2 separate regions of the Homo sapiens genome follow, and region 1 is linked to region 2. The links come from fine-mapping of genetic effects on gene expression. A gene starts in region 2. The other region holds a variant in brackets. All regions are shown on one strand. Distances are between the middles of the regions.

Evidence for each region. PIP is the estimated chance that this variant, and not a neighbour inherited with it, causes the effect.
Region 1: its variant is fine-mapped to the expression of LINC02343 in stomach (GTEx, PIP 0.93).

What each region holds. Positions count from the first base shown.
Region 1 is chr13:34,536,911-34,548,129 of GRCh38, forward strand. All of the region lies in intron 2 of LINC02343 (long intergenic non-protein coding RNA 2343), which reads left to right. The region is part of intron 1 of LINC00457 (long intergenic non-protein coding RNA 457); the gene reads right to left. Among named protein-coding and RNA genes, the nearest start is that of LINC00457, 98 kb to the right of the region's middle. The variant TTC/T (reference allele first, on the strand shown) is at 5,532.
Region 2 is chr13:34,342,947-34,354,165 of GRCh38, forward strand. LINC02343 (long intergenic non-protein coding RNA 2343) reads left to right here and starts at 5,097. Exons shown (of 4, transcript NR_146542.1): 1 at 5,097-5,178.

The sequences.
Region 1 (11,219 bases), 190 kb after region 2:
CATTGAAGACAGACTGGAACTTAGATTGCAGGAAAATTATGAGATGCAAAGGCCAGGTTCCACTAGGCATTTTTATAAACTGGTTAGAGAAGCCTGATCAGTCCTTGTTAAAGGATTCTTAAATGCCAATTAGCAAGTTGGTTTTGTCTCTTAGACCAAGAGGAACCACTAATAGTGTTTGAGTCAAATGGCAAAATGCAGAAATGTCATGACAGCTGAAGAGTCTAAAGAACTCATCTTCTGGCTGGATGCGGTGGCTCACGCCTGTAATCTCAGCACTTTGGGAGGCCGAGGGGGGCGGATCACGAGATCAGTAGATTGAGACCATCCTGGCTAACATGGTGAAACTTTGTCTCTACCAAAAATACAAACAAAAAAAAAATAGCTGGGTGTGGTGGCGGGCGCCTGTAGTCCCAGCTACTCAGGAGGCTGAGGCAGGAGAATAGTGTGAACCCAGGAGGCGGAGCTTGCAGTGAGCCGAGATCACGCCACTGCACTCCAGGCTCAAAGACAGAATGAGACTCTGCCTCAAAAAAAAAAAAAACTTATCTTCTACAATAGTCTTTATTTTCCATTAGATCCCCTACATATTTCCCAGTCACTTCCCCTATAATTTATGATCCTTTGAAGCCCAAGCACTGTTTCCTAAATCTAATCATTTCTTTGTTTCACTTCTTAGCTTGGTGCAAAAGTAATTGCAATTTTTTGCCATTGAAAGTAATGGCAAAAACCAACTGGGCACAATGGCTCCTGCCTGTAATCCCAGCACTTTGGGAGGCCAAGGTGGGCCAATTACCTGAGGTCAGGAGTTCAAGACTAGCTTGGCCAACATGGTGAAACCCCAACTCCACTAAAAATTCAAAAATTAGCCAGATGTGTTGGCACACACCTGTAATCCCAGCTACTTGGGAGACTGAGGCAGGAGAATCACTTGAACCCAGGAGGCAGAGGTTGCGGTGAGCCAAGATTGCACCATTGCACTCCAGCCTGGGGAACAGAGTGAGACTGCCTCTCAAAAAAAAAAAAGAAAAGAAAAAGAAAAAAAAAAAAGGCAAAACCGCAATTATTTTTGCACCAACCTAATATTTTCTGTGATCTCTGTGCCAATAAATATTAACAAAACCTGCGTGTCTTTTCTTCTGTAGTTTAATTTGCAGGCCCCCAAGCACTTAGCATAAGCAAGTAGACAAAAATTTTTTCCTCCCCAACACCCAACATTCTTTTTTTTTTTTTTTTTGAGATTGAGTCTCACTCTGTCACCCAGACTGGAGTGCAGTGGAGCAATTTTGGCTCACTGGAACCTCCACCTCCTGGGTTCAGGCGATTCTCCTGCCTCAGCCTCCCAAGTAGCTGGGACTACAGGCGAATACCACCACGCCCAGCTCATTTTTGTATTTTTAGTACAGACAGGGTTTCACCATGTTGGTCAGGGTGGTCTTGAACTCCTGACCTCGTGATCCACCCGCCAGGGCTTCCCAAAGTGCTGGGATTACAGGTGTGAGCCACCGCGCCCAGCTTCAACATGCATTTTAACCATGAGAAAATCAAGGAAAACCCAATTTATCTGACTTCAAATTTCTTGCCCTTTCAATGAAGCTCCCTCTAGATTACACTTTTTTGCAGAGGTAAGAAATGGTTTCAGAGAATGGATTCCCCTGAAGTCACAGGAGACAAAGTTTTACCAGGCTGGGTAGGAGGGAAGGGGGTGGAAAACCAGGAAGTCTCTGACTCTGGCAGGATTATTCTAAAGCAATTTGCCACATTGCTTTACAGTAATTTCTCCACAGATAAAATCCCTAAGGGTCAAAAAAATTGGCTGACAGGGAGATGAATGGATCTTCTCATTAACAACAACAACAAAAAAATTCTCTTAATTGTGCCCTATCCCTGAGCTTTTTCATACACACCCAACTGGAAATATCATGTGTTCGACTCTTGATCAGCTTGATATAAAGTAATATTAAAGCAGGGACTCATAATGAAACATGTTAAATTGCTACCCTGTCCTTCTATCTCCCCCTTGCCAAAAAAAAAAGAAAAACTTAAATTAAACTATGAAGGAATTGATGACTAGTGATAGTCTCTACAGAACAGTATGGGAATCAATTAAAACAGAAGCTAAAACATGCCTCAGGATGTAATTGATAACATGATGAGACAGAGAAAAAAACTGTTAAGTGTGAAGTTAAATTCAAAACATCTTACTTAGAGAAAATGCAAAGGCTTCTTTTATCCCACAGGACCAATCTCAAGAACTATTAGTTTCTCAGGAAGCAAGAATCAGAGAATAATTGTTGCTGTTTGTTTATTCTTGACAGTTTCAAAGGACAATCTCTCTTGGGGGAAAATTTCTGTTTTCAACTTAAAAGTTCATTCTAAACCCAAGACCATTCCAGGAAAGCTTTTTGGCTCTTTCTTGAACTTTGGAAATAAATTTTGCACAATTTTTCGTAATCCATTTATTTAGTTGCTTCAATTATCCCTTCTCAAATTCAGAGGTTTAGAAACATCACTGGATAGGGAACATATTCAGAAAAAAAAAAATCAGTATTACAAAGACTAGACGCCAGTCCAGTGAGAAAAAGAAAAAAAGGCCAGGATTATGTCCATGGTGGTCTCCGAATTGCATAATTGCCATTTTCAGTGTTGAGGCCTACTGATTGTGGATGTGATGTTTCAATATTTCATAAAATGTTAAAATGCTTTTACTTGAGTTATAGCTCAGTCATTTTGGCACTTAGGTCTGGTTAAGCGCTGGTTGCCAGATTTTCTTAGTGCGTTATCCACTAAGCCACAACCACTGCTAAGAAAACCTTAATTCCTATTAAAATGTTAAAACTTGGTAAGAAAGATTTGGTTTGAGTTTGGACAGATAGAAGATGTGAGCGTTCTCGCTCTCCCTCTCCCTCTCCCTCTCCCTCTCCCTCTCCCTCTCCCTCTCCGTCTCCCTCTCCCTCTCCCCACAGTCTCCCTCTCATGTGGAGCCGAAGCTGGACTGTACTGCTGCCATCTCGGCTCACTGCAACCTCCCTGCCTGATTCTCCTGCCTCAGCCTGCCGAGTGCCTGCGATTGCAGGCACGCGCCGCCACGCCTGACTGGTTTTGGTGGAGACGGGGTTTCACTGTGTTGGCCGGGCCGGTCTCCAGCCCCTAACCGCGAGTGATCCGCCAGCCTCGGCCTCCCGAGGTGCCGGGATTGCAGACGGAGTCTCGTTCACTCAGTGCTCAATGGTGCCCAGGCTGGAGTGCAGTGGCGTGATCTCGGCTCACTACAACCTACACCTCCCAGCCGCCTGCCTTGGCCTCCCAAAGTGCCGAGATTGCAGCCTCTGCCCGGCCGCCACCCCGTCTGGGAAGTGAGGAGTGTCTCTGCCTGGCCGCCCATGTCTGGGATGTGAGGAGCCCCTCTGCCTGGCTGCCCAGTCTGGAAAGTGAGGAGCGTCTCCGCCCGGCCGCCATCCCATCTAGGAAGTGAGGAGCGCCTCTTCCCAGCCGCCATCACATCTAGGAAGTGAGGAGCGTCTCTGCCCGGCCGCCCATCGTCTGAGATGTGGGGAGCGCCTCTGCCCCGCCGCCCCATCTGGGATGTGAGGAGCGCCTCTGCCCGGCCGAGACCCCGTCTGGGAGGTGAGGAGCGTCTCTGCCCGGCCGCCCCGTCTGAGAAGTGAGGAGACCCTCTGCCTGGCAACCACCCCGTCTGAGAAGTGAGGAGCCCCTCCGCCCGGCAGCCGCCCCGTCTGAGAAGTGTGGAGCCTCTCCGCCCGGCAGCCACCCCATCTGGGAAGTGAGGAGCGTCTCCGCCCGGCAGCCACCCCGTCCGGGAGGGAGGTGGGGGGGGTCAGCCCCCCGCCCGGCCAGCCGCCCCATCCGGGAGGGAGGTGGGGAGTCAGCCCCCCCGCCCGGCCAGCCGTGCCATCCGGGAGGGAGGTGGGGGGGTCAGCCCCCCGCCCAGCCAGCCGCCCTGTCCGGGAGGGAGGTGGGGGGGGTCAGCCCTCCGCCCGGCCAGCCGCCCCGTCTGGGAGGTGAGGGGCGCCTCTGCCCGGCCGCCCCTACTGGGAAGTGAGGAGCCCCTCTGCCCGGCCAGCCACCCGGTCCGGGAGGGAGGTGGGGGGGTCAGCCCCCCCACCCGGCCAGCCGCCCCGTCCGGGAGGGAGGTGGGGGGGTCAGCCCCCCGCCTGGCCAGCCGCCCCATCCGGGAGGGAGGTGGGGGGGTCAGCCCCCCGCCTGGCCAGCCGCCCTGTCCGGGAGGGAGGTGGGGGGGTCAGCCCTCCGCCCGGCCAGCCGCCCCGTCTGGGACGTGAGGGGCGCCTCTGCCCGGCCGCCCCTACTGGGAAGTGAGGAGCCCCTCTGCCCGGCCAGCCGCCCGGTCCGGGAGGGAGGTGGGGGGGGTCAGCCCCCCGCCCGGCCAGCCGCCCCGTCCGGGAGGGAGGTGGGGGGGGTCAGCCCCCCCTGCCCGGCCAGCCGCCCCGTCCGGGAGGTGAGGGGCGCCTCTGCCCGGCCGCCCCTACTGGGAAGTGAGGAGCCCCTCTGCCCGGCCACCACCCCGTCTGGGAGGTGTGCCCAACAGCTCATTGAGAACGGGCCAGGATGACAATGGCGGCTTTGTGGAATGGAAAGGTGGGGAAAAGATTGAGAAATCGGATGGTTGCCGTGTCTGTGTAGAAAGAAGTAGACATGGGAGACTTTTCATTTTGTTCTGCACTAAGAAAAATTCTTCTGCCTTGGGATCCTGTTGATCTGTGACCTTACCCCCAACCCTGTGCTCTCTGAAACATGTGCTGTGTCCACTCATGGTTAAATGGAAAAAAAAAAAAAAAAAGAAAGATTTGGTTTCTGCACAAGAGCACAATCAGCTGTTGTTTCACTTGCAATACTAAAGGCTTAATAATATCTAACATTCAATATTAAAATATAAAATGTATTTGGTACCAACACTATATATCATTTCAATCCTTAAAGAACTTTTCTGAATCATTGGGAATATTTCAGGGAAAATTACTTAGAAAGAACAGATACCTGCATTACATTGCTCTGAAATTAAGGTAGAATTATTGTACCCCATTAAAATTTGTAATCTCTTGTTAATGAAGTTTAAAAAGACAGCACATTTATTGCAAGGGAGCTGAGAGAAAGGAAGTAGTAATTATCAGAATATATGCACCAAATCATTATTCCACCTCATTCCTTATGCATTTAAACTGTCTCTCTCTACCACGAGTCTTTTTAAATAAAAACTGAAGATTTTGATTGCCTACTTAATGAAAACTTAGATGCAGTCCAGTCAGCTAGTTTTAAGAGAAGAAAAATCTTAAATTTTTTTACCATAGCTCCCAGATTAATTAATGACAGAAGGGTTAAAATTTCAAATACACATTTGTCTTGTTAACACATAATTGATCCTAACTCCTCAAAGACAGTTCCTCCTTTTTAATGGCAGGCATCTAGTTTGTAAAACAAGGTAACGTTAGTGAGAAATACAGCATAGAAAGAAGGGTCTATATAGGCTTCAGGGACTTGTCTCTTTCTAAAAT[TTC/T]TTTTTCGTCATAATCAAACAAGCATTCCAGTGTACACTGTCTACCATGCACTTTACAAGCACTATCTTGTTTAAACCTGACAACAATCCTCTGTGGTATGAATTAATATTTTCCTTATTACACGAATGAAAATTTCATGACCCAAAGAAGTTAACTAACTTGTTCGAGGTAATTCTACTGGTAATGGCATACCTTGAATTTGAATCCAAATTCAGTTGACACTTAAGTCTGTGCTTTATCACTGAGCAAACCTGCAGTCATCAAAACATCTGATAAATTATTTCTACAAAGTCAGAAAACTCCACATCAGACAGCCTATTTCACTAACATTTTTTCTTTCACTACTGCTTATAAATGAACCTGCCAGCAAGACCAGGCGAAAGCTTATCGGTTGCTCCGCTTTCAGCAGCATGAGACTCCCGAAACATGTCTATATATTTGAAGTCCTCTATCGGTTCTTTATCACGCCTGTTGCAATTTTATGATTTATGTGAGCAAAAAAGCCCCATATTTCCCTCTGGTTGGCCAGTCAATCCACAGCACCCTCCCCTAAGTCACATCCCTCTCTGAAAAACCACAAACACCTGAAGATATTTTTTTTAGTTGTTTATTTTTCCTTTTAGTTGACACATACTAATAGTGCATATTTATGGGGTAGAGTGTGATGTTTTGATACATGTGTACTTTATGTAATGATCAAATCAGGGTAATTAGCCTATCTATCACCTCAAACACTTGTCATTTCTTTGTCGTGGGGACATCTAAAATCCTTTCCTCTAGCTATAGTCAAGAGCCACATAATAATGACATTTAGTCAAGGATGGACCACATATGACAGTCATCCTATAATATTATAATGGAGCTGAAAAAAATTCCTGTCACCTGGTGAGGTCTTAAAGATCCTGACCCTGTGTAGGCCTAAGCTAATGTATGTGTTTGTGTTTTAGTTATTAAAAGAAAAAAAAAATGTTTAGGCCGTGTGCTGTGGCTCATGCCTGTAATCCTAGCACTTTGGGAGGTCAAGGCAGGTGGATCACTTGAGGTCAGGAGTTCAAGACCAGCCTGGCCAACATGGTGAAACTCCATTTCTACTAAAAATACAAAAATTAGCCGGGGGTGGGGGCGCATGCCTATAATCCCAGCTACCTCAGAGGCTGAGGCAGGAGAATCGCTAGAACCAGGGAGGCAGAGGCTGCAGTGAGGCGAGATCATGCCACTGCACTCCAGCCTGGGCAACAGAGTGAGACTCAGTCTCAAAAAAAAAAAAAAAAAGGTTAAAAAGTAAAATAAAAATTAAAAGTTTTTAAAACAGGAAAAAGCTTATAGAATAACGATATAAAGAAAAAATAGTATTGTAAAACTATTCCATGTCTTTGCATTTTAAGCTGTTATTACAAAAGAGTTAAAAGGTTTTTTTAATGTTTAAAGTTTAAAAAGTTAAAAAGTTACAGTTAGCTAAGGTTAATTTATTATGGAAGAAAGACAAATGTTGTATAAGTTTAGTGCAGTGTTAAGCGAACAGTGTTTATGAAGCCTGCAGTAGTGTAATGACTTAGGCCTTCACGTTCACTCAGCAGTCACTCACTGACTCACCCAGAGCAACTTCTCTCGTCCTGCAAGTGCCATTCGTGGTAACTGCCCTATACAGGTGTACCATTTTAATCTTTTACAACATATTTTTACTGTAACTTTTCTAAGTTTAGCCATGTTTAGGCACATAAATACTTACCATTGTGTTACAATTGCCTACAATATTCAGTATAGTAACATGCTGTACAGGTTTATTGCCTAGGAGCAATAGGTTATACCACCTAGACTTGCATGAGTATACTGTATGAAGTTCACACAATGACAAAATAGCCTAAGAACACATTTCACCGAAGGTATCCTCATCATTATGCAATGCATAATTGTATTTTGAAATATCTTGTACATTATTAATAACTACAGTCACCTAACTGTGCAATAGAACATCAGGACTTATTCCTCCCATCTAACTTTAACTCTGTAGCCACTGACCCATCTCTCACAATATCCCCTCCCCGTGACGCTACCCGGACTCCGGTAACCAGCATTCCACTCCATACTTCAATGAGATCAACTTTTTTAGATTTCATACAAAAGTGAGATAATACAGAAAACAGTATTTTTCCTTCTGTCCTTGGCTTATTTTACTTAACATAATGCCCTCTAGGTTCATTCATGTTGTTGCAAATGATGGGATTCAATTCTTTCTTATGGCTGAGTAGTATTCCATTGTGTATATATGCCACAAGTTTTTAACCATCCATTTGTTGATGGACACTTAGATTGATTCCATATCTTGGCAATTGCAAAGAGTGTTACAATAAACATACGTGTGCAGATATGTGTCTGACACACTGATTTCTTTTTCTCTGGATATGTGGTCAGTAGTAGTATTGCTGGATCAAATGGTAGCTCTATTTTTAATTATTTGAGAAACTTTTGTTGTTGTCCACAATGGCTATCTAACTTGCATTCTCATCAACAGTGTATAAGTTCCTCTTTCACCATATCCTCACCAGCATTTGTCATTTTTTTCTTTTTGACTATATCCATTCTAACTGGAGTGAGATGATATCTCATTGTAGATTTGATTTGTTTGCATTTCCCTGATGATTAACGATGTTGAACATTTTTTCATATAACTGTTGGCCATTTGTATGTCATCTTCTGAAAAATATCAATTCAGATCTTTTGTCTTATTTTTAATCAGATAACTTGGGGGGTTTCTGCTACTGAGTTGTTTGAGTTCCCTATTTATTCTTGATATTAACCCCTTGTCAGTGGTATAGTTTGCAAATATTTTCTCTCATTCTGTGGGTTTTCGCTTCACTCTGCTGTTTGTATCCTTTGCTGTGCAGAAGATTTTTCGTTTGATGTAATCCCATTTGTCTATTTTTGCTTTTGTTGCCTGTGCTTTTAAGGTCTTACACAAAAACACTCTTTGCCCAGACCAATATCCTGGAGCATTTCCCCAATGTTTTCTTCTAGTAGTTTCATAGTTTCACATCCTACATTTACATCTTTAATGCATTTTGAGTTGATTTTAATAAATGGTGAGAGACAGGAGTTTAGTTTCACTCTTCTGCGTGTAGACATCCAGTTTTCCCAGCACCATTTATTGAAGAGACTGCCCTTTCCCTACTCTCTCAGACAAGATAAGGCATTGTCACCTCAATGCTAACTTAGCACTTAGCCCTTACCTTCATCAGAACACAGATCACATTGCGGATGAATCATCTTCATATACCAAGCCTGCCTCTTCATTTTCAATCAATCTGTTGGTGCACACAGGAAATCTATATCTCAGTCTTCTATTTTTCTAAGACTTGTTGAAACAGCTGATTATTATTATTGTAATTTTCTCCTCATGAATCTGTCCAAATTATTTAAAAAAAAACACAGTATCTTTAACTTTGTAAGTGGTAAAAGCAAAAAACTGTAAAAAACACAGTACCTTTAACTTTGTAAGTGGTAAAAGCAAAAAATAGCCACAAGCAATTTATCTCAAAGTCATGAAGAATGTGAAGCCTCTACTTGAGAAAAGGCCCTTGAAAACAAAGAATGCATATTATTGCACAGGGTTGTATTTCAGGCTCCTCTATACCACAAACATTTCAGAAAACTCTAATCATTGAGAAAATGCCAAATTAATATTTAGTCTTTGGAAACTAATTTCGTGAATAATTTCATTATAATAGCCTACAACTATGGTTTTGAATGAGAAACCACTTTGGAAATTAATAGTTTGGTTGCTGAAACAAAAAATTATTAACTCTCCATCATCAATTAAAATAATATATGGTACTATGAAGCACTTCCATACGGAATAAATAATGAATATCTGGAAAACTGTAAATTATATAAATCCTAAAAACCTAAAATAAAAAGGAAATTAAAGACTATTTAGCAAAAGCAAATTTGTTGTTCTCCCTGAAGGGAAAACATAAAGGTCTTTTAGAAGATTAAAGATTCATGTCTGTGCTGCTTTCTGAAAATTCCTATGAATCATTCAGTCTTATTGAAATGCACAATTACTACTTACATAAATAGAACATTCTCATATATATGTATATGTGTGTGATGATTTGTGCATTTTTGTGGCATCAATGTAACTAGAGCTTTAAACTTTGTTATATTAAAAAATAAATCATTTGAGGTCTTTGCCAGCTTCTATTCTGCCTAGAGCTGTGAAAGGAAGGGGTGGAGGAGGACAAAATTAGATATCCCAGGAATAGAAGGCTCATTGGAGTACAATATAATCTGAAAATCCAAGAAACTTGAATCTTATCTGACAATGTTCTCAGGAGATACTCAGGATGGAAAGTAGCTATTTTGTGTCTAAACAATTTCCAAGACTAGAGAAATTGCAAGCTCTCCACAGATGCTACCAGTAAAATGCTTCAGAAGAGAGTTCATTTTTGCCTCAGTAATAATGCCTTAGCACAGTAGGGTTTGTGTATTCATGAGTGGGCGTGGGCATAGTACCCGGGAAAGTGCTTAATTAGTGTCCGTAGCTAAGGAAAGAGAGAAGAAGCCAGCAAGTGCATGCAGGGAATGCCAATCTATGGTCCGTAGCTGAAGCAGCTGGACAACAGGTGACAAGAAATAGTGAGGGAAGCCAGATGAAGTGACTGAGTTGTTTACTAATGATCTCCATTTGTCTTTTGGGAAGATACAGGGTCATATTTCTTATCTACTCAAATAAAATGTTATTTAACACCAGAAGCAATAGTATCTGTGGTGGGCAGAACAATACCCCACTAAAGATGTCTACGTCCTGGGCCAGGTGCAGTGGCTCACGCCTGTAATCCCAGCACTTTGGGAGGCCAAGGTGGGCAGATCACGAGGTCAGGAGTTCGAGACCAGCCTGATCAACATGGTGAAACCCCGTCTCTACTAAAAATACAAAAATTAGCTAGGCATGGTGGCGTGCGTCTATAATCCCAGCTACTCAGGAGGCTGAGGCAGGAGAATCACTTGAACCCGGGAGGCAGACGTTGCAGTGAGCCGAGATTGTGCCACTGCACTCCAGCCTGGGCAAAGGAAAAAAAAAGAAAAAAGCTAGAGGGGTAAGATTCTCCCCATGAGCTTCCAGAAGGAACACCAGCTCTGTTGATTTCACTTTGATTTTAGTCCCAAAAGACCCATTTCAGAATTCTGACTTCCATAACTTTAAGATGATAAATTCCTGTTGTTTTAAGCCACTACGTTTATGGTAATTTGTCAGAGCAATCATAGGAAACTAATACAATGTCTTTCTTTGTTGGTCTTTGTTTCCATTGCTCTATTCAACCTAAATGCACATGTTCTTTCTACATGGAGTGATCTTAGCTAATGCTCTATTTTGTACCGTAAAGGTACAAAACATTTATAAGCAAGTGTCAGAATATGCCCTTATACATCAGGAAATTTCCTTCAACTTCAAAGGCTAGAAATATTTTAAAGTTCTAGATATGGTCATTCAGGAAGTACTGAATGATAATCCCTATGTTGTTGCAATACGTCTTTTATCCCACCTCAACCCTCATCCTCCTAAACATACCTAAGCTAGGAAAAGAACTCAGGCATTGTAACAAATGTAATGTGAGGCCATGGTGATGGGGTGGTATAATAACTCTGGAGAGGACTGGGGTTGTACAAGGTTATATGGAGCCCGTG
Region 2 (11,219 bases):
AGTCCACTGACTCAAGTGTTAATCTCCTTTGGCAACACCCTCACAGACATACCTAGGAACAACACCTTGCATCCTTCAATCCAATCAAGTTGACACTCAATATTAACCATCACGGTATGCAAATTCATTCAGAGAAACTCAATATTCATTCTGTTTCGATTGCACTTTGTATCCTAAGAACTCTATTTTCAATAGTATCACTTTGCATATGAAATAGCAGTATATCTACAGTGAGGATTTAATAACAACTTGGCTGATTGTCTAAAGATACAACAGAAATATAATTCCCTAAGCAGCAAAGGTTTGTAGAGGGCTTTCTGTGTGCCAAAAACTATGAAAGACTGTTCTTTGGACTCAGGAGCTTATAAAGGTGTAGATGAGACAAAGTATTATGACAACATATATGAAATATCATAAAGCATACATGAAACATTAGGAAAGAGTATATTGAATCATGTGCTCAATTATGTGATTCAAATCAAATGCTATAGAATAGAGATAGTGTGAGAATGACATGGCCAGCACATAATTAGAGGAGCAGCAGGTCCTTTGAAATCAGTTCTAGGTTTAAGTTCTGCCTCTGCACATTAACTTTCACTGTAAGCAAGCTTTAAAAGACCTCTCTATGCCTCAGCTTCCTTATCAGTAGAGATGATTCATCTATTCTATTGACTTGCCAATTCTGCGCCCTCCAAAGTTTTCTTCCATGCAATGTTGGCATCAGACAGAGTAGGTGAGGCAATATGAATACATACATACTTAATTTGTTTATAATGCTTATGGTAAAATCAGAGGAAGATGCACATTCTGTCTCCCAAAGAGGTTGGGCTCAGCCCAACTCCAATATACAAAATCTATAGTCACTCCCTTCAAAATCTGCTATTTTGTCTGTCATTCAAACTCCTCCCACACCCAAGTCTCAGTCTTCCCCAGTGGTGGAATGAATGTGATAGCATGTTATTCCTTGTTGATTACTATTTATTTTTCACTTTAAAGTGTAAAATTATGACCACGATACATAACCAATCAAGTGAACACTGGTGAAGATTTTTCCAGGATAAGAAGCAATAAGTACAAAGCTCTGAGGCAGAAAAAACAGGGATATGTTCAAGATAGAGAGAAAAGGGGTTGGTAAAGCTGGGACATAGTGAGTGAGGGGGACAGTGATGGGGGCAGATCTGATGGGCAGGCAGCCATCAGATCACAAAGGCTAAGTTAGGAGGTATGTGTTTCTTCCAAGAGCAAAGCAAAGCCATTGTAGGCTTAAGGTAGTGAGGTGATGTGATTAGATTCATGATTCAAGGCACATTCTTATGCTGGATCTTTATAAAGGAACCAGAAAAAAAGCATGAGACAAATCAGGAGATTATTTCCATATTCCAAGCTGGAGATGATGGTGCTTAAGCTAAAGTTATTTGAACAAAAAGGAAGAACTTGAGATATATTAAATATGGATTTCTAACAAGCATGACAGATTTAAGGAACAGAATAGCCAGTGTAGCTGGGGAAGTGAAAAGAGTGATGGGAAGGTGAGGTCTGAGAGGTAAGCAAGAATCACATCAAAGAAGCCAACTTAAGGAACTTGCTGCCAATAATTTGGGATAATTTGTTGTCAAATTGAGGGAGGGGCAGGCAGGCAACGGGAAAGAGATAAACTAAAGATGACTCATTTCTAAGTTTGAGGTCAGAGCAAATTAGTAACTGGTTTTACCGTTTACTGAGATGGGCAACTCCTAGGGAAGAATCATTGTTGAAAGTTGAAATTTGGAGTTTTGTGGTAGGCATGAGATAATAATAGTAGCTACTTTGTGTGATTGTTGGGCCAACTAAATGAGCAAATGCAAATAAAGAGCTTCCCCCAACAACTTTGTGCATAATAAGAACTCAAAAATATTGATTGTTACTTTCCTTATCAACATTATTATTCACAAAACTATCTTTGTCAACAGAAAAGTTCCCGAAAGGGGCAGCCTCATTTTTTCCATGAGCTCCCTATCCCGTCACTTGTGGACACCAACAGTGTATGATGCATTCGGTGAAAAAACAAACAAAAAAAGTGTCTGGTTGGCTTCTCTCTCATGCACATGCAATCAACTACTTTTTGAATGGAAAGGAAGTGAAGCAGAAGTAAATGAAATTTACAAAGCCCCTATGCATCTGATTTTATTTTCCATGAAGATTAAGTTTTTCCCAGACGGATTACATTCCTTCCATCATTAGTTAAGCCCATCTTAGTAAAAATTCTATTCAGGAAAATATCTGAGAAAAGCAGTCAATTTGGTTATGCAAAGAGCTTTGCTTTATATAAAATCAGAGTATCTGTTTAAAAGAAATTACAGATGGAAGTGGAGAGTTAGAAATTTCCCACCTCCCTCCACATCTGCCCTCATATCTGCCCCCACCACTACCTCTAGATAATAAACAGTCACCCTCTCGACACATTCATATGCTGAAAAAGGAGCATCGACATAGAAAATAATTGCCAAGCAGAACACAGAGCTTTCGTTTGCCCTCAGGATATAAAATGCACCAGGACACCTTCTGTGAGATGGCTGAGGGGAAGTAATTATTTAGATCCACACTCTTTATCAACATCCCTGAAGCAGAAAGCAAAATGAATAACCAGTAAATAGATGTCACTCCCAGACAATGAGCCTCTAAAAATAAAAGCTAAAAGGGCAAACATCTGTCTTGAAGTTGGTCTTGGATTTTCCTGGCAGAGGGTAGGCAGAGGTGAATGTCGTTGGCCATTCTCATGAAGATCCAGGAAGAAAGGAAAAACTAGAGAAACGCTGCTGCAACATTCTAAAAGCTAATGGCTCTTCAGAATACCTGCATACTGCATGAGACCTCCCAGACTTTCCCTGGATGACGGTCATTTGGTCATCCATCTGGGTGTGTCAGATGAATTTTTCAGGATGATTCTAGTGCATCTGAAATCGTAGGTCTTCATATGCTTGACACAGGCTGATCATTTGTCTTCCTGCAAGAAGTTAAATTTATCATTTTTAATTGACAAGAAAACTCTGAATTCAGTCAAAGCCAAATGTGAGAAGGACTGAGAGTCATTGAAAATGCTACTAGGAAAGGTCTGTTTCCCAAAAGGGCATTTTGCCCTTAAGGAAGCACAAATGAGGTAGGCGTATTTGGGAATGTTTGTTTCTTTACACAAATGCACATTTTTTCTCATATCACCTGTGCATCATGTGAAGTGACATTTCCTCTGGTAATTACGCATTTTCTTTCAGCAGCAGAGGAAATTTTCATGTGAAAGGCACATAACTGTCAACCCATGAAGTAGTGCTTTTTAGGAAACTTAATCCCGGATGCCCAGAGCCTGAATTTTGTTCCTGAGGGTCATATGAAGGTCAACAAGAACATATCTTTTTCTTTAGATAAGAATGCATATCTCAAGCATAGGAGTCCATAAAAAACTAACATGAAATCTTAAAAGTTCCAAACCACAAATATCCCAACACTTAAACCTAGGGCATCAAACTAACCAGTAGCAAAAGGAAATAAGGTTGAAAACAGCCCCAGGAGGCCATTCATCCACAGCTGCACGATGATGCTCTGCAAGTCATGGCAACAACAGGGCAAGAAGGGATGGAGATAATTTTCATATTTGAGATATAGGATTGAATATACACATGTGAATAAAGACAAAGATGTAGGATTGGATACAGTAAGATGCAGTGGAGTTTAAGCAAAGAAAATGCATTCAGAAACCTTTTTTTTTAACTAGAGAAAAAATTATTCGTATTAAAGTGTTAACCTGGGTTAAGTCTTTTTCCAGAGAGCTAACTATGCCAATCTTCTTACTTATAATCACACCAATCTGCTGCAATAAAATCTCCAGAATGCCTGCTTGTGTATTGTTCAGTTGAGAGGAATGTGTTATGCACGCTTTAGTACTGAAGCTGTTTAAAGCTGTAAATAGTTTTATGCTCATATTATCACTTTTAAGAAGAAGAAGAAAAAGATCAAGTAGGCTCTTATCACCTCTCTGTGGTGATCCTCTCCCAAAGTTTTGTACACGCAACTCTTCTCTGAAGTCACAGAACTTGATCCCACGTTCCTCCTTTTCAGCAAAATGACCTGTGACCATAAATGATATCAGGAATCTAACAAAAGAGATACAAAAATGACAGCCATGACATGTCCTCTAGACTCTCCCTGGCCAGTGATGGTCACTGTCTAGGCTCTGATTCAGAGCCTGGGTGCATGGAAGGAAATCACACAATTCCAGGATCTCACAATTTTCTCAAAGACTTTCCAGTCCACAGGGCCAGTGTCAGGGTAGACAGAGGCAAAGATATGCATCCTCCATGAGCATGTATACCCTCTCATTGTAAATTATGGCCAAGTGAGAGTCATTCAGGGAGACACAGGGGAAAGGGACTCTACATCCTTGCTCCTGTAGACCAACATGAGCTCTCTGAGGAGCAGGGGATGGGAGCTGCTGTGTTATTTTACAGGTTAAGTCACATGTCACGTGTCCTTGCTCTGTCCCCTGTTAACAGCAAAGATCCTGTCAAATGCATTCAGTAAGGGATTAGTAAACTAGAGCTGACACACATAGTTCTGGACCCAGAGGGTCTTTGATAGAACCCTGTAGTTCATTCATCTACCTTTAGGAAGAGCTGTGGGGATATGACCTGCGTTGTTTTCTTAAAATAAGGAAATAGGGACATGTGGGAGGAGGGAGAGGAGCAGAAAAGATAACGATTGGGTACTGGGCTTAATACCCAGGTGATGAAATAATCCGTATGACAAACCCCCATGATGTGTTTATCTATGTAATAAATTTTCACGTGTACCCCCAAACCTAAAATAAAAGTTAAAAAGTATACAAATAAGGGAAGTATCTTCAGGATGTGTCTGTGGCTTTTAATCCATGTGCTTTCTGTTTTGTAAGAACTAATTGTGCTGAAGTCCAGCTCTGTGACACTGAAGGTCACCAGTTCCCTTGCTGGCTTCGACTGAATGATTCCCCTGTGAAGTCCCTTGTTTACTGTATTTGTAATTAGCCACCAAGAACTTGAGTAACCGGTTTCCGAGGAGAACATATATCCTGAATCAGTTCCTGGACATTTGTTTGAGGTCTTGTAAGGGAAACTGAAGGGAATTGTGTATTGAACAGGATGGCTTAGACCTGCTCAACTTCTGAGAATTGAGGTAAGTGCCTGACGTCAGCATGATTTCTGTTTAGCAGAAGTGGGAGTTTTAATGAAACCGATCTTTGAGCTAACGAATTTAAATGACTGAACTAAGGTGTCACTTTCAAAAGTATATATTTGAATCCATATGTTTTTTGTGGCTGTGCACATCACTGCTAGAAATTTGCGTTTAACTCGGGTAATATTTGCAGACTGACAGGGGGCAGATGGGAGCCAGCTGCTAAGTGAGAGAATCCACCTGCTTGCCAGTTGGAGTGTGATAGGAAGCAAACGGCCCTGATAGAGACTCTATTTCTAGGCACACTGACAGAGCATTCAGCGAAGTGTCACCACACTTTGCTTCATCTAGATCATCAGGGCAAACCTGAAACTCTATCAGGAGAGGGACCAGACTCTTCCAAGAAGATGGAGGGAACCAGGGACACAGAGCATCCTCCCTACTCAGGTCCCTATTGCTATGGTAAAGGAGGAGAAGAAAGACAGATGAGGTGAGGAGGCTATTCCAGAAACTGCGTGTGAAATGGGTGGTAAGACATTGCCTTGAGGCATTGCTGAAACAATCAGACTTTCGAGTCTAGTCTGAAGGACATAAGACCAGGGAGACCTTGATATGCAGAGATGCTACCCAAGCTTGGAACCCTTCCAGAGAGAGCCCCCCAAACTTTGTAGAATGTACCTAGCAAGTCAAAGCCTCCTTTGTGCCAAATATCTGTGTTCCTGCTCTCTACTTCTCTACTTTCTACTCCACAGCAAAATGTCCAAGAAAATTCGATCTTCCTCTTTGCTCTCCAACCCTATTCCTAGCCTTCAGTTTTGTTTTGTTTTTTTTTGTTTGTTTGTTTGTTTCTGTTTATCAAAGGAGTGGAATGCATCAGGCAAGAAAGTACCTACCTGCTACACCTTATACATTTTCTTCCTGCTTAGCTCAAACCTGTGAGTGCTGTAGCCAGTGAGGTACATTTCATTAAATGGATGAACCTAGACTTGGGGTATGTGGCAATCAACACACAATACTGAAAAATCTGAGTATGGAACAATCACCTGAGAAAACAGGGTAGGACGGCTTAACCCTTGTGTTCATGCTTGCTCACCCAGGACTTCAAACATCCCTGTGCCTCACTGGGCAAGCCCATGGCCAGGGCAAAGGATATGGAGAGGTGCCCCAATGGGAATGTATACCCTAGAGTGTTGTGAATGCTGGGTGCTGAGGCACCTCAAGGACTGTTTTATCCTAAGCCAGAAGAGGCTCTTTCCTGGAATGCCCAGTAAAGTTCTTCCTTGAGTTTGGTCAAAAACCATGCATTCCAAGCAAGCTGCACTCTGAAAGTCAAGTGTGGTTTTATTGCACTTACTGATTTCCAGTGTGACTCATTTGTCTCAGCAACTGGACATCTGTGTCCACAAAATGGAGGGCACCCAGCCAAGTGTGGGGATGTTCTGATGAAGTTTGGAATTTGTGCAACACATTTTTCATGCTCAGCTGAATTATTGGTAGAAAGCAAGATGCTGCCTAATGAACATCCCAGAAAGCACAGGATCCACTTTCCTGGGATAGTAAGTGACTAAGCATTTTACTCTTGCCTGTTATTATAGCTGAAAAGATACAGAGATGATATTGTATAAGGTGCATTAGCATCTTACCGTTGAATTGCCTTTTTATTTTAACGCTTCCAGAGCCTCTTCGTCTACTTTCTCATTGTGCCTTGACAACTTTCTTGTGAGCAAGGAAGTCTGGTATTACATAACTTTCAATGGAGAAAAATCACATACAAATGGGTTTAGACTTGCTTTAGGGTCCCATTACTTCAGTTGGTCTGTGTATCAGAGACATCTTGGCAGAAAATTGGGACAAGTTAAGGCTAATAAATGGAATTATTACAAAGTCATGAGCAAGGGGTAGGAAAATCACAGGAGATAGTGCAAGAGACCAGAGCTGGTAAAGGCAGTTCCTGTTTCCATCCTAGGCCTTGCGGGGGAAAGAAGAGGTAGCAGATACCCAAGGGGCTGTCATAGAAGTGTGTATTTCAGTTAAGGGGTGCAACCAGCCTAAAGTAACCCTTGTAAAGAACCCAGGGGAATAAATACCCAACCTAACTTTCCTTCATACCCCTTCTAGCCTGCTGCTTGTGTTCCCCTCCCCTGACGGCTATTCCTATCACCACCACCACTGACCAAACGCAAATGAAAGCCAGAAGGCAAGAAAGCCTATTAATGGAGTTCAAAGAATGGAGCCACTGGGGAGCATTTCTAGCTGTAGAGTCAGCCTCAGAAATAGTCAGACCTTCTGGTTGCCATTTCATCTGTCATTCATTGTTATCACCTGGATAACTAAAGATAGGCACATTATAAAGAATCCACTCCACGTTTGCTGGTGACTAAATTCCCTGGAGTAATCCTGGCAAAGGTGTGTTTCTGCCTTCAATTCAATGCAGTTCAGAAAGCATGTTTGAGTTCTGTAAAGTGAGCTACATGGTGTTTAAATTCTTATGAAAGATGTGCCAATTAATGCGATGCTGCATTTTCTTACTATTCCCCAAAATATTTACTATGCCCGATCGCATCCCCAACACACAGACACATGCACGCATACACATACACATGCATATGCATACAAATATACACACACAAACATGTAGGCACACAGAAGCATGTGCACATGGGCACAGGCACACAGAGGCACTCACACACATGCACACATGCACATGCATGAAGGCTTGGAATGAAGCACAGCTTGTGTTTCTGCCTCAGATGCCACAAAATTAATTTTAGTTGGAAAACTCCTTGACAGACTTCCAGGAAAATACCACTCAGAACAGCAGAGCTCCTGTTAACATCTGTCTGCTGTTTTCTCAGAGACATCCAATGCCAATCTTTAAGTTTCTGATTCTCAAAGCTTCCTCTGAAATTAGTCACCTTGATGAAGCTCATGATGATATAGAAGCAGCTATTACTAAAAGGAATTGCTACATTTTTGGTGGTGGTGGTGGTGGTGAAGAAGTAAATAAGTACATGGAAGAATAGATAGATGAGTAGATGGATGGTTGGATGGATGGATGGATGGATGGATGGATGCAGGGATAATGGATTGAGGAATGAGTAGAGGGATGATGGATAAATGGATGAGTGGAGGGATGATGAACTGATGGATGAGTAGAGGGATGATGGATGAATGGATGGGTGGATGGATGGATATGTGGATAGACGGATGGGTAGATAAAAGGATGTATGGATGAGTGGAGTGATCGATGGAGGGATGGATTAATGGGTGAATGGATTAGCGGAGGGATGATGGATTGATGAATGAGTAGAGGGATGATGGATGGATGGATGGTTGGATGAATGGAGGGATGGATGGATGGATAAGTGGAAAGTATGTATGGATGAGTGAGTGTGGATGGATGGATGAATGGGTGGATAGATGGAGAATTTTAGAAAGAAGTCGATATTTTTTTTCTTGAGACAGAGTCTTGCTTTGTTGCCTAGGCTGGAGTGCAGTGGCACGATCTCGGCTCACTGCAACCTCCCCCTCCCGGATTCCTCCTTCCTCAGCCTCCTGAGTAGCTGGGATTACAGGCAGGTGCAACCACGCCCAGCTAATTTTTTTATTTTTAATAGAGACCCGGTTTCACCATGTTTGTCAGGCTGGTCTCGAACTCCTGACCTCCTGATACACCCTCCTCGGCCTCTCAAAGTGCTGGGATTACAAGTGTGAGCCATCATACCCAGCCAAAGGAAGACAATTCTATAACAATTAATAAGGGGGAAGAATCTACCTAACACTCACCTCATTATTCTTGGTGAAAAGAAGCCTGAAGCAAAGGCATCTCTGTCTATCACCATTGCATTCAGAGAGGGTATATATCACAGGAGTTCAGAACACAGGCTCTAGATTCAGAGTCTTGGATTTGAATCCTGGACTTAACAACACTTACTAGCTGTGGGACCTAATCTGTGCCTCTGTAATGCTGTCTCTCTGCAAGGAATTGCTTATCCCACTGCATAGCTGGCTTGATCTGCTAGTGATAACAGGAATGCAATGGAAAGGACAATTACCTTAGACCCTGCAGGGATGTCCAAGGGAGAGAATACAGTCATTTGTTTTTAGTTTCTGTTTCTGGTTGGGCCAGTAAAGCCCCTTCCTCATCCCTCTTTTTCACTTATTACTAGCGACAGAAACTAAAAATCATGGCTTCAGACTCTAAAAGCCTAAACAAAACAAAACAGAACAACAACAACAACAAAATAAGGCAGGTTGGACAAGCTTGCTGGTATTACAGGGATGAAGGTTACCCCATAACACCCAAGACATAGTTCTCTGAGAAAATTTTAAAAATGAAATCATGCCCAGACACAAATTTCTCAGAAAAAAAATTGATATAGGAATTACAGCCAAATATCCATGACTGGTTTGGTTAGAGAATAAAATAATCTTTAAAATAATTTTATCACTTATGAATTATATTCATATATTTTATATATATATATATATGAGGAAGCAAATTGTATTTAGAACTTAGAAGTTAGAAACCCAGCTCAGGCATTGCCTGACCTTGAGCAATTTCCTTAACTTCTCTAAGCCTAATTGCAGGTGGTACAAACTGGTTTTGCTGTGGCCAAAACTGTCCAGCAGATTTGATTCCTTTGGGCCACAAATTCTTTTAAGCACATGTGAACTATGATTTTAAAGTTGGGAAATTCCACCAAAGCATCTCAATTTCTAAGTTTTTGGAAAATTTAAAAAGTCCAGCAACAGTGGACCCATATTCCCACACAGCACCCGTTGGGTGAAGCTGAGTCAGGGCTGCCCCCTTTAGACTGGGCCACGTCTCCATAACCCCTTCCACTTTCTACTGGTTACTGCCTACTTTCTCTTCAGTGTTACCTGCTGGCTCTCAAAGCCCTTGGAGTTGTAATCGCTGCTCTCATATGTAAAAAGAAAAATAATGTCTGAGCTGGGGTTGTTGTGAAAAATAAATAAAATCAAGTAAGTGAAGGGCCCAACACATGTATGACACACCATAGCAATGGAATACGAGTCATCTCCTTTCTCTCCCCTGGTCATGTATTCATTCAGCAAATGCTAAGTGTTCACTATATGCCAGATAATGTGCTAAGTGCTAGAAATGAAAACATACATATGACACGGAGCCTGCCCGTGCAAAAGGTTGCATTCCTGTGAAGGGAGACAGACTTATAAACAAAGTATAAGACCCATCTGAGCAGGCTACTCCATCTTTCCAACCTGTGATGCTTCCTGGAGGGCATCTAAAAGAGTAAAGAGAATTTGGAGGAGTATGTAAATGATTCCTTTAAAAATACTGCTCAAGGTAATGAGGCATGCTCTAACCTGGGATAAGGGAGTCTCCTTAGCGGGTTTTCCAAATCTATTCATTTTACCAAATTAGACACGTTCTTGTAAATTTCATTTACATTTGATACTAGAATGGGCAATTATAGGTCTTACATGGCAAGATCAGGGCACCTTGAAGGAACACCTGGATCCTACTTCACTGACTGCAAAGAGATTAAAATAAAACCTTGTCACCCTAGTCAGATGGAGGCAATGAAGAGAAAATGGAATCATAAAAGCCCAGAATATTAATTCCACCTCAGTCTTCCTTTTAATATCAAGCATCCCTGGATTTGGGTTTGCAGAAATTCACATTGCTGTGTCACATAAGCTAGAATCTCCCAGAGGGGCACAGAGCGCTTTGGGGCGCATTCATTATACATCAGCATTACACAATGCATTGTACAGCGTCAGTGCCAAAGTCATAATATGCCCTGTGCTCCACTCCCTCCCCTATTTCTCTATCCTAAGGCTGACTTTAGCCTACTCATCACCATGGCTATTATTCTTCTTTATTCTTCTCAAAATCTGCGATTTCATCATTTTACCCTTTTCTACAGGCTTCTGAGATCAGTTTGTTCATTCGTATAGTTGGCCCCAGTAACAAAGCTAAAACTTCTATATTCACCGGATTTCCAGAATGTGAATGTTGGGTCTTAAACCTTATGGTCAAATAATATATTTTTTTA